Regions from separate parts of the Homo sapiens genome. Here region 1 is reported to be linked to region 2. The links are microRNA targets in miRTarBase. Many come from high-throughput screens and were not tested one by one. Region 2 holds a microRNA gene; the other region holds the end of a gene's coding sequence.

Region 1 (3,000 bases), not on the chromosome of region 2:
GTTCACGAATCTTCCAACCTTCTCCGTCCCTGCCCCCTCCCCCACCCTCCCCTCCCCTCTGTCTCGCCCTTTCCCCCATTCCCAGCAGCCGCCGGACGCAGGCGAGGCCGACAGACCTACAGCCGCTACCAGACCCTGGAGCTGGAGAAGGAGTTCCTATTTAATCCCTATCTGACTCGTAAGCGGCGAATCGAGGTATCGCACGCCCTGGGACTGACAGAGAGACAGGTCAAAATCTGGTTCCAGAACCGGAGGATGAAGTGGAAAAAAGAGAACAACAAAGACAAGTTCCCCAGCAGCAAATGCGAGCAGGAGGAGCTGGAGAAACAGAAGCTGGAGCGGGCCCCAGAGGCGGCGGACGAGGGCGACGCGCAGAAGGGCGACAAGAAGTAGGCTTCAGCTGGGACTGCCAGGGCCGCGGCCGCCCGCACGTCCGCGGGTCCCGGCCGCGCCGCCGCCGCGCGCCCCTGCCCGAGAGAGCTCTGGCCCCGCTAGCGGGGCCAGGAGCCGGGCCTCCCACCGCAGCGTCCCCCGCCGCGCCAGTCCCCGCTAGTGGTAGTATCTCGTAATAGCTTCTGTGTGTGAGCTACCGTGGATCTCCTTCCCTTCTCTTGGGGGCCGGGGGGAAAGAAAAGGATTTAAGCAAAGGCTCCCTCGCCCTGTGAGGGCGAGCGGCAAAGGCCCGGCTGAGCCCCCCATGCCCCTCCCCTCCCCGTGTAAAAAGCCTCCTTGTGCAATTGTCTTTTTTTTCCTTTGAACGTGCTTCTTTGTAATGACCAAGGTACCGATTTCTGCTAAGTTCTCCCAACAACATGAAACTGCCTATTCACGCCGTAATTCTTTCTGTCTCCCTTCTCTCTCTCTCTCTCGCTCGCTCGCTCTCGCTCTCGCTCTCTCTCGCTGCGTCCTCATTTCCCCTCCCAATCCTCTCTCCCCTCTGCAACCCCCCAGCTCGCTGGCTTTCTCTCTGGCTTCTCTCTTTTCCTCCTCCACCCACCCCCTTTGGTTTGACAATTTTGTCTTAAGTGTTTCTCAAAAGAGGTTACTTTAGTTAGCATGCGCGCTGTGGGCAATTGTTACAAGTGTTCTTAGGTTTACTGTGAAGAGAATGTATTCTGTATCCGTGAATTGCTTTATGGGGGGGAGGGAGGGCTAATTATATATTTTGTTGTTCCTCTATACTTTGTTCTGTTGTCTGCGCCTGAAAAGGGCGGAAGAGTTACAATAAAGTTTACAAGCGAGAACCCGAGACTGGCCCGGCCAGCGCTCCTCATTTGCTCCCGGGTGCCTTGCAGAGCCGGTGGGGAGCCTGTCACCGGGCTCCTGCGCCTGCTGAGGCTAGGCTGCAGAGAGGAGGGGGCGGGGGCTGGAGGCAGGTGGTGCGAGTCCCTCGGCCCAGGGGCGCTGGGGGTGAGGGAGGCGGCTGAGCCTGATTGGAGGAGAGAAAAACGAGGGAGGGGAGCCAAGAGAAACCCCCTCCTCTCGCGTTCCGAGGCTGCCCGGCCAGGGAGGCCAGGGCGCCCAGGCCACGCTGGAGACCTGCGGCTGGGCTGGTGGCTGTGTCCCCCGCCACCTCCCTCTTTGTTTTGCTGTGTGTCCTCCCAAGATGTGTGTCGGGAGGTGGGGTGGGGGGCAGGCATAAAGGTGGAGTGCAGGCCTGCTGAGCATACTTTTTTTCCCTCGGACTGTTGTTGTTGGGGGAGCAGGAGGAGAAGGGAGACCGCTCTTCCCTGCCTCTCCCTCTCAGGGACTTGGCCACCTTCGCTCTGTTCTGAGGCCATGGCTCTCTGCCTTCCTTCCTTCGCTGCCTCTGCTTCTCTGGTAGTCACGCTCCACTGAGGCATCCGCCTCCGGGAACCGGGAGAGCAGCGCGCCCGGGCCAACCTCCACCCTTCCTTTCTCTCCCCACCCTCCCAACCCCCTTTTTCTTTTACTTTCAAACCTTTTTTTTTCTTTTTCTTTCTTTCTTTCTTTTTTTTTTTGCCACCAGAAACGGCAGCGTCCAAGGCCCGTGGGCTGGATCCTGTGCCCTAGGAGCACCTAGGAAGACTTGCTCCATCTCCGCCCGCATATCTGGGGCACCAAGAGAGACAGAGTCGTGAGCCAGGCTCGCCTCATTCCTCGTCTTGGGAGAACCGGACCAACTTCCCCAAAAGGCCTTGCCGTGCAGAATTGGCCTGGTTTAATAAAGAACAGACCTGCCCCAAGCACCCACCCACCCAGTTGCGTGCATTCAATCCCTGCGTTTGTCTCTCGCTCGGTAACGGGCTGAAGAGGATGGGTGGAGGGTGACACGGATCGCCCCGAGGTTATTTATTTTCCCTTCCACTCAATCTCTTCCTCCCCAAATCTCGCCTGCAAGCGGCCTCCAGCCCGCGGGAGTCGGCAGCGGCCCTTGAGCCCCCAGCCCCAATCCACAGGGCTCGGCTTTCCCATTCATTATTGATCATATTTTATAAATCCAACGCCACACAATTTTTTCCACATTACCGGGAGCCGTGGGGAGACGGCCCGGCCATTGGCGGAGGGGACGTCACGTGGGCGGGGTCACGTGGTCCGGAGAGGAAAAAGGGGGTCCTTTTTGGTGTAAATCTGGACTCTAATTCTGTAATATATCAAGGAATCTCGTAAAACCGACACTAAAACGTCCCTGCCTACAAATCATCCGGCCAAATTATGAGTTCATTGTATTATGCGAATACTTTATTTTCTAAATATCCAGCCTCAAGTTCGGTTTTCGCTACCGGAGCCTTCCCAGAACAAACTTCTTGTGCGTTTGCTTCCAACCCCCAGCGCCCGGGCTATGGAGCGGGTTCGGGCGCTTCCTTCGCCGCCTCGATGCAGGGCTTGTACCCCGGCGGGGGGGGCATGGCGGGCCAGAGCGCGGCCGGCGTCTACGCGGCCGGCTATGGGCTCGAGCCGAGTTCCTTCAACATGCACTGCGCGCCCTTTGAGCAGAACCTCTCCGGGGTGTGTCCCGGCGACTCCGCCAAGGCGGCG
Region 2 (3,503 bases):
CAGGGCTTGGGACCAGGCCGAGCTCAGGCCCTGAATGGGTCTGGGAGCCTGGAAAAGCTTCATAAAGACACCAGTGAGAGGCAGGCAGAGACCAGCAGCAGGGTCTACAGCCGTGGCCGTGGTCAAGGTGGGCTCTTCTTTGGGTCCACCGAGCCTAACAACCGGGCCCTCTTACCTGGGGAGAGGAAGGTGGAGGCTGAGGATGGCAACTTCCGGGGGCTCCAGGCCTCGGCCTCGGCGGGTGCAGGGATGCTGCTGGGCCTCGGGGCAGTGGTGCCTGGGGACGGAAGCGGGGCGGGAGGGTGCCCTGGGACGCCAAGGAAGGAAAGGAAGGTTGAGGCCCGGGTGGGGGAGCCCCGTGGGGCCCGCCGGCCTCCCAGCCGTGGGGTGCCCGGAGTCCCGCGCTCACAGGCTGTGATGATGTCCCGCGCACGGAGCAGCTGCAGGTGCGTGAGGATGTGCACGAGGTCGGCCACACGGGCGTTGCGGTTGATCCAGGGCCACAGGACGCTGGCCGTGCGCTGCCCGGAGCGCTCGCACAGCCGCAGCTCGGTCTGGTCGCGCACGATCAGGGCGGCTGCGGGGCGGGGGGCGTCAGGCGTCGGCGCCAGGAGCCCGCGCGCCTCCCGCCCCCCGGCAGCCCGCCGCCACCCACCGAACTGGCACCAGTCGGCGGGCTCCAGGGCGTCCATCACTTTGTAGAAGCGGCACATGACCCAGGGCGGCACCTCGTACAAGAAGTGCTGGGCGCCGGGGGCTGCGGGCTCCCCCGGGCCCGGCCCCCCGGCCATGGCTGCCGCCGCCGGGCCGGGACCTGCCGGGGCCTCTCAGGGCCGCGGCGGGCGCGGGCCTGGGCCGGCCGGGTCCGCGGACACTGACTCACTTCCCCTTCGAGCCGGCCTCGTGCGACGCCCGGCGGGGCGGAAGGGGCGGTGCCCGGGCCCGCCGCCATCTTGCGCGCCGCGGCCGCGCGCTGGGTCACACGGGGGCGCCCCGCGCCGGGGAGGGCCCGGGTCCCGGCGGGTTCCGCGAGCGGCGATCGGCCTCCCGGGCTCGCCCGGGCGGGGCTCTGGAGGACGAACGGCGGCTCCCGGCGTTGGGGACAGAGGGCAGGGCGGAGGCCCGGGCTGCTCGGAAAGGGGCCGGGGCCGGGCCTTCCGAAAGCTCCTGGGCGGCCCTGCCGGAACCCTGCTCTCCACTGCGGCCTGCAGGGCTGTTACCAGGAGCCCTGCCTGCCCGCCCCACGTCTAGCCCCCTGCACACGGCAGCAGCCTTGAGCCATTCAGTCTCCTTAGGTGTCCTGAAATATGCCGAGAACGCTGCCCGCCACAGCCGTGAGTGTATGCGTTGCTGCTGCCCCAGCCCTCATTTGGCAAGGGTGAGCTCAGGCAGCTGTGGTGAAGGCTTCCTGAGCCCGCCGGCAGAGCTCCTGCCACCCCGTACCTGTCCCCTCCTGGGCATCGTCCTTGATTACTTGTCTGGACCGCCACCCCCGGTCCCCGCCCTGAGATGGGGAAGACCCCACAAGCAGCAACGCAGACTTACTCTTTTGTTTCTCCAGCTGGATGTCTCCTCCAGCGACAGTTCCCCTTGCCCTCTTGATCCTGACAGCGAAGGGGTTCCCCACCCCTAGCCCTACAGACTTAGGACTTTTCCTAGAAACGAGAAGTGCCCAAGGCCCACAGCTGGCCCCTGTTGGAGTCTCTTTCCTGAAGCCACCACCACTGTGGCCACTCCCAAGGAAGATGCCAACCATACCATGAAACCCATGGCTTCTCACGGGACAGACTTTACTGAGATGTACCAACTCAAGTATCTGAAATGACTGCACACCCATGCTAACCTCCACGGGGGCACTTGGTCCTACTTACACACAAAGGCCCATCAGCTCACGGAACAGGGCTGGCATACGAGATGCTCAATGCATACAAGTTGACTTTTCAACCCTGGGATCTACCTTTGAAGGCCAGGCCTTCCGAGGGTACCTTCTAGCATGTGCATGTGAAGCTGGACTCCTTTGAGCAGTTGTCTCCTCCAGCCCCTTACCAACCTGGTGAGGCTGCTCCTGAGAGCCAAGGAAGCCAGTAACAAGGGGGCCCCCTTTGGGCAAACCCCTCAGCCTGCCCTTGCCTGGTCAGAGAACCACGTTAGCAGTCAACAGAGGGCACGTGAGGGTCCTGGCCAGAATGAGACACAGGAGGAGCCACAGCCTGCGGGGGTGGGGGTGTCCAAAAGCACCACAGCACATCCAGACCTAGGGGGTGCCCCTACCATACGGGTCTGGAGCAGGGAGGTTGTGCTGCAGGCTGACTCATGCCAGGCCCTTCCCGTCACACGCTGGAGCAGTGTGCCTGGAGAGCACTGGCTTGGAAGAAGCTGAGGGGCCAGCGAGGCCAGCATATGGAGGAGGCTTCCCTTGGCCGCTCGTGGCAGGCCTGAAGGCAGCTACCTGTGTCCAGGGACAGCCAGATCCAATGAGGAAACGCAGCACCATGCTGTCATGTGAGCTGGAGGGGGACTTCTGTCTTATAATGAAAGCCCAGACCTTGAGTCACTTTCACAGAGAGATTTATCGAGAATGCTAACAGCACAGGATACAGTACTTCCCAACAAAAGGTGCAAACGCGTCACTTAGAAAGGCATGCTGAGTATTCTTTGCTTTCACATGTATTAAAAAACTTACAAAAATAAAATAAAACTGCGTGCTGCCCATCTTTTCCAATAGTAAAAGAACCTTATGAAAAAATCACTTGATTTTTACAACAAAAGACACAAACGGACATTTTTATGTAAATTTATAAGGCAAACTCTTTATATAATAAATAGGTTACAGGGATTCAGTGGGGGGGGGGTGTTTTTGAAACGTATACAGGTACATTCAGACAGGTTTACTGAAATGGTACAAATTTCCTTAATAAATTGCCTTTTGTTTTTAAATATATCAGTGCTTTCAGTCATTTGGCTATACACAAAGAACCTTTTTTCTGAACACTACAAAAAAGCAATCAATAATTTTTGTTTTTAAAACGACCTACTTATTTTCTAAAGTAATTGTCCCAAAACACAAAAACTGAAGGTGAATACGATACAGGGCTTTTAGAGACATCTCCAGCTAAGTGTGTCCCGGCCTCTCCCTGTGCCCCAAGTGCACCTCTCCCAACCTCAGACAGGTTTCCAGGCTGGAGCCAGCTCCCTTCTGCACAGGGTGGCCTGTGTTACTGGCAATGCTGTCCATAGCTCTCGGCCTCTGGGCTGGCACAGGGGAGCATGACTTCAACTCAGGAGGGGGCAGACACCCTGCCTAGCTCTTCCAGATGCTGCACCCGGCATGCAATGGTCACTACAGTCAGCACTCTCCGCCTCTCAGAGGAGGGAGGGGCTGTCAGGTGTTTTGGGAGCCCAAAACCATGCCTAATGAGGGTAATGGCTTTTCTAAGGAGATGTTTTCGCCATGGAATGGGAAGGGGTTTTCTCACATCTAAGTTTTGCTGGCGATCGGGTGA

The links. Region 2 holds the annotated microRNA hsa-miR-718 (CUUCCGCCCCGCCGGGCGUCG, at 907-927, opposite strand). A microRNA usually pairs through its seed, bases 2 to 8, with sites in the 3' UTR of a target mRNA and lowers its output. Matches are read on the target gene's strand: a 7mer-m8 pairs with bases 2 to 8, a 7mer-A1 pairs with bases 2 to 7 and ends in A, and an 8mer does both.
Region 1: miRTarBase lists HOXB8 as a target of hsa-miR-718. Seed matches in the 3' UTR shown: 7mer-m8 at 1,210-1,216.

The regions. Positions count from the first base shown.
Region 1 is chr17:48,610,595-48,613,594 of GRCh38, reverse strand. HOXB8 (homeobox B8) reads left to right here. Exons shown (of 2, transcript NM_024016.4): 2 at 86-1,249. The coding sequence ends at 393. It overlaps HOXB7 (homeobox B7), which reads left to right and starts at 2,578. Exons shown (of 2, transcript NM_004502.4): 1 at 2,578-3,000. The coding sequence starts at 2,677. RefSeq lists a silencer at 1,402-1,451 and enhancers at 1,245-2,065, 2,066-2,885, 2,886-3,000.
Region 2 is chrX:154,019,022-154,022,524 of GRCh38, forward strand. MIR718 (microRNA 718) reads right to left here and starts at 968; the gene lies at 899-968. It overlaps IRAK1 (interleukin 1 receptor associated kinase 1), which reads right to left and starts at 881. Exons shown (of 14, transcript NM_001569.4): 1 at 656-881; 2 at 410-577; 3 at 176-307; 4 at 1-57. The coding sequence starts at 791. MECP2 (methyl-CpG binding protein 2) reads right to left here. Exons shown (of 3, transcript NM_001110792.2): 3 at 2,552-3,503. RefSeq lists silencers at 251-320, 331-430, 781-1,160 and enhancers at 846-1,815, 1,931-2,000.